Regions from separate parts of the Homo sapiens genome. Here regions 1, 3 and 4 are each reported to be linked to region 2. The links are microRNA targets in miRTarBase. Many come from high-throughput screens and were not tested one by one. Region 2 holds a microRNA gene; each other region holds the end of a gene's coding sequence.

What was found. The annotated mature microRNA hsa-miR-519b-3p reads AAAGUGCAUCCUUUUAGAGGUU and lies in region 2 at 3,073-3,094, opposite strand. An mRNA with a match to its seed (bases 2 to 7 or 8) in the 3' UTR can be bound and repressed. Matches are read on the target gene's strand: a 7mer-m8 pairs with bases 2 to 8, a 7mer-A1 pairs with bases 2 to 7 and ends in A, and an 8mer does both.
Region 1: miRTarBase lists TFAP4 as a target of hsa-miR-519b-3p. Seed matches in the 3' UTR shown: 7mer-A1 at 1,286-1,292.
Region 3: miRTarBase lists TSG101 as a target of hsa-miR-519b-3p. Seed matches in the 3' UTR shown: 7mer-m8 at 847-853.
Region 4: miRTarBase lists MAVS as a target of hsa-miR-519b-3p. Seed matches in the 3' UTR shown: 7mer-m8 at 1,298-1,304 and 7mer-m8 at 555-561.

Annotation. Positions count from the first base shown.
Region 1 is chr16:4,253,897-4,258,896 of GRCh38, reverse strand. TFAP4 (transcription factor AP-4) reads left to right here. Exons shown (of 7, transcript NM_003223.3): 7 at 648-1,711. The coding sequence ends at 842. Among named protein-coding and RNA genes, the nearest start is that of LINC01569, 2.6 kb to the right of the region's middle. RefSeq lists a silencer at 4,840-5,000.
Region 2 is chr19:53,693,185-53,698,356 of GRCh38, reverse strand. MIR519B (microRNA 519b) reads right to left here and starts at 3,144; the gene lies at 3,064-3,144. It overlaps MIR526B (microRNA 526b), which reads right to left and starts at 3,964; the gene lies at 3,882-3,964. MIR525 (microRNA 525) reads right to left here and starts at 824; the gene lies at 740-824. LOC107985342 (a long non-coding RNA gene) reads right to left here. Exons shown (of 3, transcript XR_007067332.1): 3 at 3,735-4,328.
Region 3 is chr11:18,476,226-18,481,225 of GRCh38, reverse strand. It overlaps TSG101 (tumor susceptibility 101), which reads left to right. Exons shown (of 10, transcript NM_006292.4): 10 at 591-915. The coding sequence ends at 680. It overlaps LDHAL6A (lactate dehydrogenase A like 6A), which reads right to left. Exons shown (of 7, transcript NM_144972.5): 5 at 4,725-4,842; 6 at 3,483-3,606; 7 at 1,625-2,520. The coding sequence ends at 2,356. Among named protein-coding and RNA genes, the nearest start is that of LDHAL6A, 23 kb to the right of the region's middle.
Region 4 is chr20:3,865,650-3,870,649 of GRCh38, reverse strand. It overlaps MAVS (mitochondrial antiviral signaling protein), which reads right to left. Exons shown (of 7, transcript NM_020746.5): 7 at 1-4,967. The coding sequence ends at 4,503. Among named protein-coding and RNA genes, the nearest start is that of PANK2-AS1, 21 kb to the left of the region's middle. RefSeq lists an enhancer at 4,137-4,638.

The sequences.
Region 1 (5,000 bases), not on the chromosome of region 2:
GTCTCGAACTCCTGACGTCAGGTGATCCTCCCGTCTTGGCCTCCCAAAGTGTTGGGATTACAGGCGTGAGCCACTGCGCCTGGCTGATACATATAATATAATTTCTAAGCAGCACTGGGACTGTCATCTTCCCAGAATGGATTTTTCAACTTAACAGAGGGGTTTTGAAAGTTTGTTCCTGGGTCAGGCGTGGTGGCTTATGCCTGTAATCCCGGGACTTTTGGAGGTTGAGGCAGGAAGATTGCCTGAGGTCAGGAGTTCGAGATCAGCTTGGGCAACATAGCAAGAACCCCCTCGTCTCTACCAAAAATACAGAAGTTAGCTGGGGATGGTGGCGCACCCCTGTGGTTCCAGCTACTAGGGAGGGAGCAGTAGGAGGATCGCTGGAGCCCAGGAGTCTGACTGCAGTAAGCTATGATCATGCCACTGCACTCTAGCCTGGGTGATATAGCGAGAGCTTGTCTCCAAAAAAAAAGTAAAAGGAGTTTGTTTTTCCTGTACTCTAGCGGGCCTCCCCTGCTGCTTTGCCAGGCTTTTTTCTGGGCTATGTGTTTTGGGGGTGACAGTGGCTGGCTGAGAGCCCCCACTGTCTCCTGGCTGGCCATGTATCCCCGGCCGAGCCTTCTCAGTGGTTCGTCCCTGTCCAGGCAATCCAGCACATCGAGGGCACCCAGGAAAAGCAGGAGCTGGAGGAGGAGCAGCGGCGAGCTGTCATCGTGAAGCCTGTCCGCAGCTGCCCGGAGGCCCCCACCTCTGACACCGCCTCCGACTCCGAGGCCTCAGACAGTGACGCCATGGACCAGAGCCGGGAGGAGCCGTCGGGGGACGGGGAGCTTCCCTGACTACCCCCCCAGCCCTCCTCTCCCTTCTGGGGGCTGGAGGGAGCCGGGGCAGCCACAGGGAGAGACATGGGCGAATGAGTGAGAAATTTTTACAAAATTACGATGTCATTTGGGTCTCTTTTATGACCTCTTTTTCAATACTGTAAATCGACCTTTGAACGAAGCCACTCAACCCGAGGTCCCGGGGCTGGGGTGTCGCAGAGCGTGTGGGAGCATCGGCACCCCAGGGCGGGGCCTCGGCCCCGGGGGCTGGAGGAAGCTGACACGGAGATGCCTGGCCTCTCTCTGCCAAAAAGCATTTTTTCCTTTAAATATGTTTTTTAAGAACAGGGAAAATTAAACAAAACCCCAGGTTATTTCTTCCCTGCCCAGAGCCAGCCTGGGATTGTCAGCCTTCAATCCCCTTTCCTTCCTCTTTTTGGGTTTTCTTCTTTCTCCTTTAAGCACTTACATGGTTGGGGGTAAGACTAGGCTGGGGCATTCTGGGGGCCCGGAGGTCTCCGTTGCTTCTTGGTTGGGGTTTGCTGCTGCTGTGCCCCCCTCCCCCTTCCCCATCTCGGCACTAGAATTCGCCACTCTCCCACCCCCCAGCCCCCACCTCTGCCTCCAGGTCTCATCTTCCACCCCAAAAATGTCTGTCTCTCTCTTTTTGTTTTGTTTGTTGTTGGTTTTTTATTTCTTTTTGGTTTGCTTTCTGTTTTTGTTTTGTTTTTCTTTTTTTTCTTTCTTTTTTTTTTTTTTTTACAATTTTGAGGTCTTCGTGTTCAAGGAGAAGCTATTATATTTTGTTAAGAAAGTGGGGAGAAAAAAACCAAGAGGCCACCGTGCCTTTGTAAAGAAACAAAATAAAGTTTGTACTTTGTTTTTTAGATTCTGAGTCTCCTGGGTGTGGGCTGGCCTGAAGACCAGGGCAGGGCTACCCCATCTAGAGTAGGGGGGCTCCTTGGGCCCCCCAAAGCGGACTGGGTGTGTGTGAGCACAGTTACTCCCTCAGCTTGTGTGTGGTGTTGCGATGAAAAATTGGGGTCCTCAGTTTCCCTGGGATGACCCTGGGTATTCTGTAAAGATGGAAGATGGTGTTGAGGCTGGGGAGTGGCTCTTTGGTGGGCGGCAAGGAGAGAAGGACAACCAAGCCACCGATTCCGAAAACCTGGGAAAGGACACAGGTGTTCAGGGGCCCTGCTTGGTCCCTACGCTTTGGTTAATCCCTAGGTTTTGCCACTTCCTGGGCTTCTGTAACTTCTCTGAGCCTCATCCTCTCCTCCCCTAGGAGGGGAACCCCACCCCCTCCAACCGCACCCCCCCAGCACCCCCCTGCCCCCCCGTGGTGTGGTGTTTAAGTGCTAAGATCCTGGAATTGGTCTGCCAGAGGTCAGTTCCCCCTCTGACAAACCGCTTCCTCTGAGCCTCAATTTCTTCTTCTAAAAATTGGCGATAATAACGGCACAAGGACATTGCATCCTATTGGGGATTGGCATGGTCCTTTATTTCGAGACAGAGTCTCTGTCTCCCAGTCTGGAGTGCAGTGGCGTGATCTCGGCTCACTGCATCCTCTATCTCCTGGGTTCAAGCAATCTTCTTGCCTCAGCCTCTCAAGTAGCTGGGACTACGGGAGTGCACCACCATGCCCAGCTAATTTTTGTATTTTTAGTAGAGACAGGGTTTCACCATGTTGACCAGGCTGGTCTTGAACTCCTGACCTCAAGTGATCCGCCTACCTCGGCCTCCCAAAGTTCTGGGATTAAAGGGATGAGCCACCATGCCTGGCTATTTTTAAATTTTTATTATTATTTTTTGGTGTGAGATGGGGTCCTGCTCTGTCGCCCAGGCTGCAGTGCAGTGTTTTGATCACAGTTCACTGCATCCTTGACCTCCTGGTCTCAAGTGATCCTCCCACCTCAGCCTCCCTAGTAGCTAGGACTACAGGCCTGTACCACAAAGCCTGGCTAATTTTTTTTTTTTTTTTTTTTTTTGAGATGGAGTCTTGCTGTGTCACCCAGGCTGGAATGCAATGGCACGATCTTGGCTCACTGGAACCTCTGCCTCACAGGTTCAAGCGATTCTCCTGCCTCAACCTCCTGAGTAGCTGGGACTACAGGCACCCACCATCATGCCCAGCTAATTTTTGTATTGTTAGTAGAGATGGGGTTTCACCATGTTGGCCAGGCTGGTCTTGAACTCCTGACCTCAGGTGATCCACCCACCTTGGCCTCCCAAAGTCCTGGGATTACAGGTGTGAGCCACCGTGCCTGGCCTGGGCCCGGCTGACTTTTTTATATTTTATTGTAGAGGCAGGGTTTTGCCATGTTGCCCAGGCTAGGCCATGGTCCTTTAAATCCTTCACTCTTCCGTGACCAGAGATCGATTTACACCGTGGTCCCCTCCTATGCCTCATGCTCACAGTGCTGGGTGCTTGGGGACTGAGGCCAGAGCAGAAGGCAGAATCACAGCTCACCCCACGATGACAGTGGACACGAACTCTTCACAGAAAGGCAGGAGTCTGCAGGTTTTCTTGGAATTTTACAGTGAACAATTCAATGGCACTTCATACATTCACAGTGTTACACAGCCTACCTGGTTCCAAAACATGTCCGTCACTCCAAAATGACTCCATGAAGCAGTCACTCCTTCCCCCTCCTCCCAGTCTCCAGCAACCACCTGCTTTCTGGTTTTAATATCTTTTTTAAAAAATTAAAGTAGTTGGCTGGGCGTGGTGGCTCACACCTGTAATCCCAGCACTTTGGGAGGCCGAGGCGGGTGGATCACATGAGGTCAGGAGTTCAAGACCAGCCTGGCCAACATGGTGAAACCCCAACTCTACTAAAATACAAAAATTAGGCTGGGCACAGTAGTGGTTCACGCCTGTAATCCCAGCAGTTTGAGAGGCCGAGGTGGGCGGATCACTTGAGGTCAGGAGTTTGAGACCAGCCTGGCCAACATGGTGGAACCCCGTCTCTACTAAAAATACAAAAATTAGCCTGGCATGGTGGCGAATGCCAGTAACTGTGGTCCCAGCTACTGGTGAGGCTGAGGCAGGAGAATCACTTGCACCGGGGAGGTGGAGGTTGCAGTGAGCTGAGATTGTGCCACTGCACTCCAGCCTGGGTGACAGGGCGACACTCCATCTTAAAAAATAAATAAATAAATAAATAATTTTTAAAAATGAAAGTAGTTACATTTAGTAGAAGTCACACTTTCTGATTTTTGGTTTTGCGTGTTTCCTACACGCAAATGCATAGTTTCCTACCCACCACTATGATCAAGATATGATTTAAAGAAAAAATAAAACAGGCCGGGTACGGTGGCTCACGCCTGTAATTCCAGCACTTTGGGAGGCCAAGGTGGGCGGATCACCTGAAGTCGGGAGTTCGACAGCAGCCTGACCAACATGGAGAAACCTTGTCTCTACTAAAAATACAAAATTAACCGGGCGTGGTGGCGCATGCCTGTAATCCCAGCTACTCGGGAGGCTAAGACACGAGAATCGCTTGAACCCAGGCGGCGGAGGTTGCGGTGGGCCGAGATCGCGCCATTGCACTCCAGCCTGGGCAACAAGAGCGAAACTGTCTCAAAAATAAATAAATAGATAAATAATAAATAAAACCAAAGCAAAATAAAAAAGATATGAATTAGTTCCTTCATTTCCAATGCCCCCCATGCCTCTTGGTGGTCAACCCAGCCCCTAGGAGCCACTGATCTATGTTGCCATAGTCTTACCTGTGACATGTCATAGAAATGGGATAACCCTGCCTTTTGAGCCTGGCTTCTTTGCACTGCAGCCAATTTTCTCTTGCTGAGATTATCCAGCTAAATTTACATAGGATCTGGCCCGGCACAGCGACCCCTTTCGGCCAGGTGCGAAACGGCAGGCCCGACGGTCCCCACGCAGCTCCTAAGAGGATCAACAGAGGGCGCAGTGCGCCCGGAACGCCCAGCCCCTGCGAAAGCGGAGGCTCCTCTCTCGGTCCCTGCGGGACAGCTCAGTTCTCATAGGCCAGAGGCGTGGCTTGGGGGCGGGCCAGGGGAATCCCACCTCCCCTTGCATGCTCAAGCGCGCCGGGCGATGGTAGGCGGTCTCACCCGCAGGCGGTGGAAGTCAGGGGCGCGGCTGCGGCCCCGCCCCTTCCCGGACTCGCCCCGCCCGTCCCCTCGCCGCGC
Region 2 (5,172 bases):
TGTAGCAATTTTCCTTGACCAGGTTAAAATGAACACAAAAATAAAGATGCATTTACTGGCCCTGTTTGCATGTTTTCTGGAATCCAGAATATAAACCCCTGAAAGGACCATCTCCAGTTCCTTGTTTCAAAGGCTCAGCAGGTTAGCCTTGTTCATCAAGGGGCAATCCTCCTGAGTTTTGTCTCCAAAGAGAAAAAGCAATGACTACTAGACATACCTTATATTTCACCAATAGAATTTGGCTGGATTTCTAGAGAACAGCAATGGATTTTGAGCCAAGCGTTCACTTGAGTTCCAGCACAGGGACACGCAGTCCTCACAGGAACATCCAAAATGAAATCTAAGATGTTGAACAGGCCTGGCGTGGTGGCTCACGCCTGTAATCCCAATGCTTTGGGAGGCTGAGGCAGGTGGATCACCTGAGATCAGGAGTTCAAGACCAGCCTGACTAACATGGTGAAACCCCATCTCCACCAAATACAAAAACTGAGCCGGGTGAGGTGGCGCATGTCTGTAATCCTAACTACTCAGGAGGCTGAGGCAGGAGAATCACTTGAACCCAGGAGGGGGAAGTTGCAGTGAGCCGAGATTGCGCCATTGCACTCCAGCCTGGGTGACAGAGTGAGACTCTGATTTAAAACAAAAAACAAAACAGAAACCCACCATCATCCAAGTCTTAATTATAAGCATGCTCTGCAAATATATTACCAAGATCAGCATCAACTTCAACGTTGCTTTACCCAAACCGTAACGCTCTAAAGGGAAGCGCCTTCTTTTTTTTCACATAAGAGAAAGTGCATCCCTCTGGAGAGTCACAGCTTGAGATCTTCTTGCTCCAGCACCGTGGGTTTTTGGTTGAAATCTTCCTTCACTGGGTTAAAATGGACACAAAAATAAAGATGCATTTATTGGCCCTGTTTCCATGTTTTCTGGAATCCAGAACATAAACCCCTAAAACGACCATCTCCAGTTCCTTGCTTCAAAGGCTCAGCAGGTTAGCCTTGTTCATCAAGGGGCAATCCTCCTGAGTTTCGCCTCCAGAAAGAAAAAGCAGTGCCTACTACACATACCTTATATTTAACCAAGAGAATTGGGCTGGATTTCTAGAGAACAGCAATCAATTTTAAACCAAGTATTCACTTGAGTTCCAGGACAGGGACACTACAGGACAGACCACAGGCGAGGCCTTAAAAGCTCCTCAGTAAAATTTGAACAGCGGGAGGATCACTTGATCGCAGGAGTTAAGAGTCCAGCCTGTGGAACGTGCTGAAACCTCATCAGTACCAAAAATACAGAACTTACCCAGGGGTGGTGGTGCCTGCCTGTAGACACTAATCCAGGAGGCTGAGGTGGCAGGTGGAGGTTGCAGTGAGCCAAGATCTCACCACTGCCCTCCAGCCTCAGCGACATAGCCAGGCCCTGTCTCATAAAAATTAAAACAAAATACACAAACAAAAACAACTCCAAAGTGATATAAGAGTGTTCTCTGTGTATAGAAGACTATTTTGTGTGTATGGAATTATACACAGAACATTGTGATGAAATATACTCATTTTTTTTTGAGACCCTGTATAAAAAAAAACCAAAGTTCCATATACTATATGCTCACATAAAGCATAATTCCCACATATTGGTGCTTTGACAGCACACACAAATGAATGGGGTGACAGAGATTTCCATAGCCCCCGCACATAGGTGACACCCAAATTCATAATGGGTCCCATATTCAAAATTAGGAAAAAAGGCTGAGTGCAGTGGCTCATACCTGTAATCCCAGCACTTCGGGAGGCCTACGTCGGCAAATCACCTGAGGTCAGGATTCAAGAATGGCCTGGCTAACATGGTGAAACTGTGTCTAAAATACATATATATATATAGCTGGTATGGGGGTACATGTCTGCAATCCCAGCTACTTGGAAGGCTGAGGTTGCAGTGAGCTGAGATCACACCACTGCAGTCCAGCCTGGGAGACACAGAGAGGCTCTTTCTCCAAAAAAAAAAAAAAGAGAATTGCTTGAGTCCAGGAGGCAGAGGTTGCAGTGAGCCAAGATCACACTAATGTACTCCATCTCGGGTGACAGAGCAAGACTGTCTCAAATAGTCAAAGACAGAAAAAAAGAACAGGTCTCGCTCTCTTCTTGATTGTGTATGGGCTCACTTAAGGTCAGGAGTTGGAGACTGGGCTGGCCAACATGTTGAAACCCTGTCTCTACAAAAAAAAAAAAAACGAACAAACAAAAAAAACACAAAAATTAGCCGGGCGTGGTGGTGTGCGCCTGTGATCCCAGCTACTCGGGAGGATGAGGCAGGAGAATTGCTTGAACGTGGGATTGTGCCACTGACCTCCAGCCTGATGGACGGAGTAAGACTCTGTTTCAAAAATCGATGAGTAAATAAATAAATAATAAAAATACAAAAATTAGCTGGGTATGGTGGCTCATGTCTGCGATCTCAGCTACTAGGGAGGCTGACTCAGGAGAGAATGGCTTGAATCTGGGAGGTGGAGGGTACAGGGAGCGAAGTTCCTGCCACTGCACTCCAGCCTGGGTCACAGAGCAAGACTCCATCTCAAAAAAGAGGACCGCTGGGCACAATGGCCCACGCCTGTAATCCCAGCACTTTGGGAGGCTGAGGTGGGTGGATCTTGAGGTCAGTAGTTTGAGACCAGCCTGGCCAACGTGGTGAAACCCTGTCTCTACTAAAAATACAAAAATTAGCTGGAAGTGGTGGCAGGCACCTGTAGTCCCAGCTACTTGGGAGGCTGGGGCAGAAGAATTGCTTGAACTCAGGAGGTGAGCTTGCACACAAGATCGCGCCATTGCACTCTCGTCTGGGTCACAGAGCAAGACTCCGCCTCAAAAAAAAAAAAAAAAAAAAGAGGACCGTTTGAGCCTAAAAGATCTACGTTGGAAGTGCTACCCTACTCCAGCCTGGGCAAGAGAGACTCTGTCTTAGAAAAAAAAACAAAATAAAAACAGAATCCCACCATCATCCAAGTCTGATGATAAGCATGCTCTGCAAATGTATTACCAAGATCAGCATCAACTTCACTGTTGCTTTCCTCAAACAGTAAACCTCTAAAAGGATGCACTTTCTTTTCTTTCAGACAACAGAAAGCGCTTCCCTCTAGAGGGTCACAGCATGGGATCTTCTTGCTCCAGCACCCTGGGTTTTTTGTAGAAATTTTCCTTGACCAGGTTAAAATAGAGACAAAAATAAAGACCTATTTATTGGCTCTGTTTGCATGTTTTCTGGAATCCAGAACATAGACCCCTAAAAAGACCATCTCCCGTTCCTTCCTACAAAGGCTCAGCAGGTTAGCCTTGTTCATCAAGGGGAAATCCTCCTGAGTTTTGTGTCCAGAAAGAAAAAGCAATGCCTACTATGCATACCTTATATTTAACCAAGAGAATTGGGCTGGATTTCTAGAGAACAGCAGTGGATTTTCAGCCAAGTGTTCACTTGATTTCCAGCACAGGGACACACAGTCCTGATTAGAGCAGTCAAAATGGAATCTACCATGTTGAAGAATATACATTGTTGCACACACAAACATCCTCCAGGATAGACTACAAGGGAGGCCTTAAAAGCTCCTAAAGAAACCCTGTCTCTACTAAAAATACAAAATTAGCCAGGCATGGTGGCGCAGTCCTATAATCCCAGCTACTTGGGAGGCTGAGGCAGAAGAATCACTTGAACCCGGGAGGCGGAGGTTGTGGTGAGCCAAGATTGTGCCACTGCACTTCAGCCTGGGCAACAGAGACCCAGTCTTAGATAAAAAAACAAAAGAAAAACAAAACCCCAACATCATCCAAGTCTGATTATAAGCGTGCTCTGCAAAGATATTACAAAGATCAGCATCAACTACAACGTTGCTTTTCTCAGACAGTAAGCCTCTAAAAGGAAGCACTTTCTCTTCTTTCAGACAACAGAAAGTGCTTCCCTCAAGAGGGTCACAGCCTGACATCTTCTTGCTCTGATGCCGTGGATTTTTTCCTGGAATTTTCTTTGACCAAGTTAAAATAGACACAAAAATAAAGATGCATTTATTGACCCTGTATGCATGTTTTATGGAATCCAGAATATAAAACTCTATAAGGACCATCTCCAGTTCCTTGCTTCAAAGAATCAGCAGGTTAGCCTTGTTCATCAAGGGGCAATCCTCCTGAGTTTTGTCCCCAAAGAGAAAAAGCAATGCCTACTACACGTACCTTTAACCGAGAAAATTGGGCAGGATTTCTGGAGAACAGCAATGGATTTTAAGCCAAGTGTTCACTCGAGTTCCAGTACAGGACCCACAGTCACGAAGGGAGCATCCAAAATGGAGTCTACGATGTTGAAGAATATACACTGTCATATGCACAAACACTCTCCAGAGTAGATCACAGGCTAGGATGTAAAAACTACTCAATAAAATTTGAGCAGAAATACACAAGTACAAGTGGGGCCCAGTGGCTCAGACCTCTAACTCCTCGAACTTTAGGAGGCCCAGGCAGGAGGATCACCTGCCTCAGGAGCTCGAGACCAGCCCCGGCAACATGGCGAGACCCCATGTGTACAAAAATTACAGAAGTTAGCCAGGTGTGGTGGTGCATGCCTGTAGAGACTAATTCAGCAGGCTTAGGTGGGAGGTGGAGGTTGCAGTAAGCCGAGATTGCACCACCACACTCCATCTTGGGTGACAGAGGCAGATATTGTCTCAGAAAAGAACCACACACACACGCACACACACGCACACGCACACACACCCTAGGTGATATCGGAGTATTCTCTGTGTTTAGAAGAGTATTTTGTGTGTACATAATATATAAGAATATAAAATGAAATATACATCATGTATTTTTGAGACCCTGTCTCAAAGAAAGTTCCAAATATTGCATGCTTATAGGAAGAATAATTCCTATACATAACTGCTTGCTTTGGAAGTACACATAAAAAAATTTAAATGACATAGAATATCCTGGCCACTGCACAAAGGCGACACCCAAGTCCATGCTGGTCCCATATTCACCTAATTATTTTTATTTTTATTTATTTATTTATTTAGAGACAGAGTCTCACACTGTTGCCCAGGCAGGAGTGTAACGGTGTGATCTCTGCTCGCTGTAACCTCCGCCTCCCAGATTCATGTGATTCTCCTGCCTCAGCCTCCCGAGTAGCTGGGATTACAGG
Region 3 (5,000 bases), not on the chromosome of region 2:
CACATCAAAGTATCAGGCTGCCCTTTCAAGCCCTCTTGTATGAAAGTTGTCTCAAGCTTAATGCTGTTGTACAGAGGAAAATCTAGTAAGCGAAGTTTGGCTACTGCTGTCTCTTGGGTCATGGAGAACATGGTTTTAGGGATAATAGCAGCCACCCTTGGGATATCTGATCCAGCTGTAGCTGGAGCCTGGTCAGGTCATGTGCTGATCTTGCCTATCTCCTCTCACTGTGGGGGAATGGCCAAACCATGTGCCTCAGAAGTGGTACAACCACATGAATGGCTGGATATAAACCAGAGACCCAAGAGAGGACTCTTTTTCTGTACAATCTCTTGCTTGAGTGGCATGGCTTAGGAAAAGAAAGTGTAGGTCAAACTCCTGAGCCAGATCCTGCAATGTAATGCTTTCCCTGTTGAGTAAGCCTTTATAATATGCAGCTTAAAAGCCACATATAATGAGGTATTCATTCCAAAGGTTGGCAGGTCATGAGTTAGGGTTCTTAGATCCCATCTAGGTTACAAATTGTCTATTTTATGCCTGGGCCTAAATCAAAGCCATTCTAAACTATTCAAACTTTTCTCCCCTCCCAGCATGTACGTCTTCTGTCCCGTAAACAGTTCCAGCTGAGGGCACTAATGCAAAAAGCAAGAAAGACTGCCGGTCTCAGTGACCTCTACTGACTTCTCTGATACCAGCTGGAGGTTGAGCTCTTCTTAAAGTATTCTTCTCTTCCTTTTATCAGTAGGTGCCCAGAATAAGTTATTGCAGTTTATCATTCAAGTGTAAAATATTTTGAATCAATAATATATTTTCTGTTTTCTTTTGGTAAAGACTGGCTTTTATTAATGCACTTTCTATCCTCTGTAAACTTTTTGTGCTGAATGTTGGGACTGCTAAATAAAATTTGTTGCATAATTTTTCTCTCCTTTATTGGACTTTAGGAAAGATCCATGAAACCTTAGTAAGCCCAACTTCTCATTTAGCAAAAAAGGCATAAAATCCATCTTAAGTTGAAATTTAGTATTATTCTACAGCATATAAAGTGAATTAACATGGGGATATACCAAATAGAAATCTAAATTTTGAAATATTTGAAATTGAAGCATTTGAGTAACTTATCTGTGAAAGGTCCAAGGAGATGCTCTCCTACCAACCCTACTAAATTTGTTTCCTTTCTAGGCCTCACTGAACCATAAGTGTTTTCATCAAAAAGGAGCAGAGTGGCAGGTCCAAACTATATACCTGATAACTTTAGGATTAAAGGGAAAGATAGTGTACCATTGCCTCCCTGCTTTTATTGTCATTTAAAGTTTCGTCTTCATGGTGAGTGATTCTGTAGCCAAGTTTGTGACCACCCAATGAACTATATAGCTGCTGTATGTCCTGCAGAGCTCATCCAGAATAGAATGTTCTTGATCAAAATGAGAGTGCTAGAAAGCTCATGAGGCTACAAGGCTACAAAGAAAAGTATATTCCAATTTGGGATGTTATTAAGATAATTAGGCAGCCCACTCTACTCCCAAGAGAAGAATGACCAATTTAATCTGTTGTCACCAAGCGGTTTACAGCTTAAGGCCTTTTCTGTAAAAATTAAAATGCACTCAAAGAATAAAAAACAGCAAGGTCAAATCAATGTTTTATCTAGTGTTAGGAACATTTAGATTACTCTCTGTGTGTGTGTGTATATATATACACTTTTATTTTTACATTGTAGAGATAGCATGTAAATGAACATAGGTATTAAGCCATAGAGAAGAATTACTATGCACCTGATGAAAAGAATCAGGATTTGTGTAACACAGTAAACACATTCTTGTGGACCAGATGGCAATTACGTATACATACAAGGCAAGTACTGAGAAGTACCAAAAACATCTTTGATGCCGTCACTTTAAAAAAAAAAAAAAAAAAGTGTCATCTATCATCTGGATACTAAATCAAAGCTAAGGCCAGGCACAGTGGCTCACCCCTGTAATCTCAGCACTTTGGGAGTTCAAAACCAGCTTGGATGACATGGCAAAACCCCATCTCTACAAAAAGATACAAAAATTAGGCAGGCATGGAGGCACACGCATGTGGTCCCACCTACTCTGGAGGCTGAAGTGGGAGGCTCACCTGAGCTCGGGAGGTCAAGGTTGCAGTGAGCCATGATTGTGCCACTGCACTCCAGCCTGGGTGACAGAATGAGACCCTCCCAAAAAAGAAAAAAAAAAAAGCTGGAAGGCTATACTAAATAGGTCACTCTTTCCTCTATTTTTCCAACTTTTAGAAATTCAAATTTATTCAAAAGTTTGACATATACAATTCCATAACTACTATTTCATCTTCAATCTACAGAATTAGCTTTAAGCAACTTTAAAGCTTGAGCTCCTTCTGAATTTCCCAAAGTGTTTCTGCACTCTTTTGCAAGCAGGCCTCCTCTTCAAGAGTCAGTTTTACTTTTATGAGGTCTGTGATACCATTCTCTCCCAGGATACATGGGACACTAAGGAATATGTCTTCATTTATTCCATAGAGGCCCTGAAAGTAAAGACTTAAAAATTATTCCTTTTTTAACAAAGTTCTGCAATATGAGAAACAACAGTTGGGAGGTGAATGAATAACAGATTGGTATAGTACGAACTATGGCAGAGTACCAAGGCAGAGAACTTTTTTCTTTTTTTTTTGAGACGGACTCTTGCTCTGTCGTCCAGGCTGGAGTGCAGTGGCACGATCTCGGCTCACTGCAAGCTCCGCCTCCCGGGTTCACGCCATTCTCCCACCTCAGCCTCCCAAGTAGCTGGGACTACAGGCACACACCACCACGCCCGGCCGACAGAAAACAATTTAAAACATGATTAGACATATTTATTGTTCAGTTTCAACCCACCATCTCTCCATATAGGCCCCAGCCTCCTGCCATGTTTGCTGGGGCTCACCCTTCTTTCCTCATCTCCTTACTCCATACCACTTCCTATCAGGAGACCACTTCAAAATTCCTATGACTTTGTTTGCAGTGATCTAGATCTGTCTTGTTGTATAACCTCTCCCATTTAGACTAGCAGAGGGATCTCACCCATGCCCCAACTCCCCTTTCCCCAGGAGACTAACTGCTAATTATTTTGTGTCTAGTGCTGCTTTCTTAGATCTCATCATTGGACATAACTGAAACTGTAAGAGAACAACTCCAAAGGTACCAAGGTCTGCCCATAGTGGTTCCCAATGTTTCTAGATACTGGTAGAATCAGTTCACTTAGTTAAATAATAAAGATGCCAAAACACTTACTTTTATCTAATAAAAAGAAATGTCACACTAGACCAGGACAAAGGTCTACAAAGATAGGCTCTTTCCCCAATCTCCCCACTCTTCAGCAGCAAAGAACAGACTTCAGGAAGAGAGGTGCTTCCCACGAGATCAAACCCAAAACCAGAGTGCCTCAAAAATGTTCTTTACCCCCCTATTTTATGTTGAGTTAATGATTTTTCGAACATGAATGTCCTACCTTACTTAGGGTAGAAACTGGATGCACTCTCCTAAGATTCTTCAAAATACTTTCTGTTAAATCAGCTACAGATAGGCTAATGCCCCAAGAAGTATAACCTTTCATTTTGACCATCTCATAGCCACTGTAGATAGAAGAAACCATAAACATAAGTTAAGATGCACTTGTCATTGAACTTCCACTTTGTAGCAATGTATCTAACAATGCCACAAAACTGCAGTGACTCCATCAACAACTTCTAGAAATTACTTGTAGTATGTATGCATTTTTTCTTTCTTCTTTTTTTTTTTTAAGTCTTGCTCTGTCACCCAGGCTGGAGGGCAGTAGTGTGATCTCGGCTCACTACAACCTCCACCTCCCAGGTTTAAGCAATCTTCCCTCCTCAGCCTCCTGAGTAGCTGGGATTACAAGCATGCGCCACCATGCGTGGCTAATTTTTGTATTTTTAGTAGAGACGGGTTTTCACCACGTTGGCCAGGCTGGTCTCATACTCCTGATCTCAAGTGATCCACCTACCCTGGTCTCCCAAAGTGCTGAGATTAGAGGCATGAGGCATGAGCCACCACGCCCGGCCATATATATGCATTTTTGAGAGAGGGTCTCAGCTGGAGTGCATTGGCATCATCAGAGCTCACCTCGACCTCCTGGGCTCAAGCAAGCCACCATATGCTCAGCTAATTTTTTATTTTTTTTGTAGAGATAGGGTCTCCCTATGTTGCCCAGGCTGGTCTCATACTCCTGGGCTCAAGTGATCCTCCCACACCTCAGCAGAGATGGGGTCTCCCTATGTTGCCCAGGCTGGTGTCATACTCCTGGGCTCAAGTGATCCTACCACCTCAGCTTCCCAAAGTGCTGGGATTATAGGCATGAGCCACCATGCCCTGCCACAGTGGTTAAACATTTGAGTTACAAGTACAGAGATGCAGAAATTAATATGGAATCAATTCCACCACTACAATAAACACTATATAGCAAGTGTTTGAAAAAATACATTGTCAGTCAACAAGTGAGCCCCTACCATGTGCTCAATACTGGGTTAGGCTCAGGAATAAGCAACACAGAATCAGTTCCTGACTGTTGAAGAATTTATAATCTGGTGAATATGATCACACAGAAAAGCAGAAGTGCAAATAAAAATATGGGAAATACAACAACATATATTTAAGGGACTAATCTCAACCTTCTAACAGAGTTCAGGCTCACAACTTCTAAGGTACTGAAAATGTGAAACTAGCATATTACCTGGAAATCACTTTTTTGTGGACATTTTCCCACTGCTCAGGATCTTTATCAGTTCCTATATCTGGGTTCAGATCCTTCAGAGGGACGCCAGCAATGTTCACACCACTCCACACAGGAACTAAGAAAGAGACACCCAAAATCCCACTTCTTACATGGTATTAGCAGGGTTTTGGTTTTTGACCTCAGCAAAACTGTTATAATTGCCCTGAGTGATTTCCAACTAGGAATGTTCCGATATCTGAGCCCCACTCCAGATATTCTAAATCTAGATCTCCA
Region 4 (5,000 bases), not on the chromosome of region 2:
TTTTTTTTTTTTTTTAGAGATAGGGTCTTGCTTTGTTGCCCAGGCTTGTCTCAAACTCCTGGCTTCAAGGGATCCTCCCACCTCGGCTTCCCAAAATGCTGGGATTACAGGCACAAGCCACCACATCCAACCTCCCTCATATTTGACTAAGAAGTCTCATAAATCTGAGAACACCTAGCAAGGAATTAAGGCGAGGGTGTGGCACTGTTCTGGCTTCAGTCTATCACCAGGCAGAGTCCACGCATTCTTCCCAGGGAGAAAGAAGCAGTGACAGCTCTTGGGCTTTGAGGGAAATGATTCAGCGGGAGAAAGAAGGTGGAGAGGGGCTAATATGCAGATACCATTGCTGCAGGTGGCTCTGCCCCTAAGCACTGAGGAGGGCACTGGTCCCTCTGGCCCCACCCAGCCTTCACCCCAAGGTGAAGTACGCTTTCTCAGGTCCCCAAGGATGGGTGGCCAGGTCCCCCACTGGGAGTGGAGGTCTCACTCCCTTCCTTGGGTTCTGACCTCCACATTATCTGGCTGTGAGGGTGACCTGCCTGGCTTTCCCCACCAAGTGCAGCTCCCCGCAGCTGAAAGCCACACTCTCAACACAGGACTCCTGAGATCTGACACTGGCCAATTCACACCCTGCTTGAAGCTGGCATTTGAGAGGCCTTCAGGTTGACAACAGCAGCAACAAGTTTGCTGTTCAAAGTAGGCCAAGTCACGGCTTTGAGCGGCATCATTTGAAAAGTGCTGGGATCAGCCAGGCGCAGTGGCTCACTCCTGTATCCCAGCACTTTGGGAAGCCAACGCAGGTGGAGCACTTGAGGTCAGGAGTTCAAGAACAGCCTGGCCAACATGGAGAAACCCCGTCTCTACTAAAAATACGAAAATTAGTCGGGTGTGGTGGCAGGCCTCTGTAATCCCAGCTACTCGGGAGGCTGAGGCAGGAGAATTGCTTGAACCCGGGAGGCGGAGGTTGCAGTGAGCTGAGATCATGCCACTACACTCCAGCCTGGGCAACGGAGTAAGACTGTCTCAAAAAAAGAAAAAGGAAAAAAAAAAGTGGTGGGGTTTGGGTGCAGTGTCTCACATCTGTAATCCCAGCACTTTGGGAGGCTAAGGCAAGATCTCATGAGGCCAACCTGGGCAACATAACAGCATGACCTCATCTCTATAAAAAATTTAATTTGGCTGGGCGCGGTGGCTCACGCCTGTAATCCCAGCACTTTGGGAGGCCGAGGCGGGCGGATCACAAGGTCAGGAGATCGAGACCATCCTGGCTAACACAGTGAAACCCCGTCTCTACTAAAAGTGCAAAAAAATTAGCCAGGCGTGGTGGCAGGCGCCTGTAGTCCCAGCTACTCTGGAGGCTGAGGCGGGAGAATGGCCTGAACCCAGGAGGTGGAGGTCGCAGTGAGCTGAGATCGCGCCACTGCACTCCAGCCTGGGTGACAGAGCAAGACTCCATCTCAAAAAAAAAAAAGAAAAAAAAATTTAATTAGCCAGGCATGGTGACAGGTACCTGAAGTCCTAGTTACTCAGAAGGCTGAGGCAGGAGGATCGCTTAAGCCCGGGAGTTTAAGGATACAGTGAGTTATGATTGCACCACTTCGCTCCAGGCTGGGTGATTCTCTAAAAAAAAGAAAAAAGAAAAAGATGGGAGGATGGGAGGCGGGGCTAGGGGACTGGGAAGGTCCCTCAACCCTTTCTACATGCCTTACCCAGGGTATCTCCCATCATGGCTGGTTACTGTGCTAAAATTATAATTTTTTTTCTTTGAGACAGAGTATCACTCGGTCACCCAGGCTGGAGTGCAGTGGTGCGATCTCAGCTCACTACAACCTCCGCCTCCTGGCGGGCTCAAGTGACTTATCTTCCCACCTCAGCCTCCCATGTAGCTGGGACTATAGATGGGCGCCGCCATGCCCAGTTACTTTTTGTATTTTTTACCTAGGCTGGTAGTGTGCTAACATTCTACCACTTGGGCAACAGTCTTCGGGGCTACATACTGCCTTTTTTTTTTTTTTTGAAACAGAATACCACTCTGTCGCCCAGGCTGGAGCGCAGTGGCACAATCTCGGCTCACTGCAACCTCCGCATCCTGGGTTCATGGAATTCTCGTGCCTCAGCCTCCTGAATAGCTGGGATTACAGACGTCTGCCACTACACCTGGCTAATTTTCTTATTTTTGTAGAGACGGGGTTTCACCCTGTTGGCCAGGCTGGTCTTGAACTCCAGACCTCAGGCGATCTGCCCACCTTGGCCTCCCAAAGTGCTGGGATTACAGGCGTGAGCCACTGCGCTCGGCCCATGTTGCCTTTTTGAGATACTTTTTTCAAAGCTACCCTGGAACGGTAATACAATAAAACTAGTACCTGTGCATAAATTGTTAACTGACCTGCCCAGCATGGGTACCTAACTGGGGTTTAGGGTAGGGGGACAGAGGGCTTTTTAAGATTGGTGGTGGGGGATGGGGATTAATACAGACAGCTCGGGTAGGGTCCACTCCTGGTTCCAGGGTGCAGGTTGCTGGACTTGGAGCATGGGATGAAGAGATGTTCAGAGATAGAGATCATTAGGTTGCTGAACTCCCCTAGGGCAGTGGAGTGAAAAAGCTGTAGCAGCCAAGGCAGGGTGTAGATCCCTGGAGGCTGACGGCTTGGGGTGGGGCCACAGTGAGCCCAGCCCCTGATGGCTCTAGTTCTTGTCCCTTGCAGAGCTCAGAAATGGAGGTGGCTCCTGTGCCTTGTCCAGCAATGGTTCCCTGAAAAGAACCCATAAGGATACCCCCAATCCACCCCAATGTGTTTCTGGTGTTATTGTAGATAATCTCCCCAACAGTGGGTGAGCTTGGGGTGAGGGAACCTGGCTGCTGGGAGTGGAAACGCCCTATATCCTCCATCCTGTACAGCTGCCCAGTGGACATACCTCTCTCCCCAGCAATTTCTCAAGGCACAAGATAAAGTAAGGGGCAAATACAAAGATAAAGCTGTGAGGCAGGAGGGTCTGAGTCTGCCTCTAAAGGAGTAGCCAAGACTCCTGTTTCTCTGCATTTTTCTTTTTCTTGAGACAGGGTCTCGCTCTCTCACCCAGGTTGGAGTGCAGTGGCACGATCCTAGCTCACTGCAGCTTCAAGCTTCTGGGCTCAAGTGATCCTCCCACCTCAGCCTCCCAAGTAGCTAAGACGACAGGTGCACCACCACGCCTGGCTAATTTTTTAAACTTTTTTGTAGAGATGGGGTCCCTGTTGCCCAGCATGCCTGGACCCTCAACACTTAATAGTGATAATAACATATATCCAACCCTTGGTAAATGCCAGGACTCATCCTAAGACCTACATCGATAAACTCCTTTAATCTTCACAACACTGGGAAATATATATATATACTTATCCTCCTTTTACAGGTGAGAAAACTAAGGGACAGACAGATAAATCCCTTGCCCAAGGTCACAGAGCTGGTGAGAGGCAGGTTGGGACGCAGGCCTAGGCTGCCTGTGCTGCAGAGCTGCACCCTTGACCACTGTGCACTCTGCCTCTCATGCCCTCAGCTCTACCAGGTTGGGCAGGAGAGAGATGGGAGAAGCAGTGGCCACTTGCTCTGGGCCAGGCACTTGGCAAACACCTGTAGGTTCAATCTCAGAAGAACCCAGTGAAGAATGAGCCAGATACTCACTGTCCACGTGGAGAAGCAAGACCAGAAGTCTGACATCTGCCAAAGCCACACAGCCCCGGAAGTGAGGGAGCTGAAATCCAAACCTCTGCCTGAGCTCTGCCCACCAGGTGTCTCCTCCCCAGCCCATGTAGGGAGCTGAAGAGAATGGAGACCAGAGGGGAGGGAAAGAGGAGGCTGGAGAGGAGCTCCACAGGTCTTCCTCAGGCCTGACAGCTGCCCCTGGCTTCCCTGAGGTCCACAGGAACCTCCAGACCTTCCCAGGATTGCCCAGCAGGGGAGGGGGCCCAGTGGGGCAGGAACTCAAGGCAGTTGGGCTCCTGGAGAGCAGCCACCCTGCCGCTCCTGCCTGCCTCAATGCAACGGTCTCAGGCTGGGCTGCCAGGATGGGAGGCAGGTCTTGTGGAGTCGCCCACACACCACATACCTGCCCTGAGGCCTTCAGGGACCAATGCAACAGGAGAGGCATTCCCAAGCACCACATGTTCCAGTGGTCCCTCCTGCTCCACCTGGGCCAACAGGGCTGAGGCCTGGAGGAGGAAGCTCCTCTGGAGGACATGGATGATAACCTGGATTGCCAGTGGGGAAGGTCTGGAGCACTGGGGGCAGCCCAGGACCCAGAAAGCCAAGGACGGGGACCCACACAAGGCACCGTGGGGACAGAGATGCTGCTCTCAGGACTTGGTTCAGCCAAGGCATGTCCTGCTGCCAGGCCTGCAGTCCCTTAACTCCCCTCTGACCCAGCCTCCACAATCCCCAAGAAAGGGACAAGGGGCTTCGGAGAGGGGCCAGGTGTACTGCAGGAACGGAACAGATGGGTGGTGGGAAGAGCCCAGGGCTTCACTAGTGCAGACGCCGCCGGTACAGCACCACCAGGAGTGTGACTACCAGCACCCCTGTCACAGCCACCTGGAGCCACAGAGCCCCAGGTGAGGGCCTGTGGCATGGCACCTCCCTCTCCTGGAACTTCCGGTCGGCTTGTGGCCTGGGGCCGCCATCCGGGTCCGCAGGTGGCCCAGGGTTGCCCTCCAGGAGCTGGATGCTGGGGTTCTCAGCCACGTGGATCCCAAAGGTGCCCTCGGACTTATACTCATTCTCCTCTGGGCCATGGCAGGGCCCCATGCCCAAGGAGGTGCTGGCACTGATGGCAAGATCCTCGAAGCAGCCCGAGAACGGGCTGTCTACCTGGGATGCCAGCACGCCAGGCTTACTCAGCTCCGACCCAAGGCCCCTATTCTCAGAGCTGCTGTCTAGCCAGGCTGAGCTGCCTCCAGTGGCGCCGGCGGGTGTTGGAGCTGCTGGGGTCTCCTGGGAAAGAAAGGAGAGCACTGGAAGGGACTG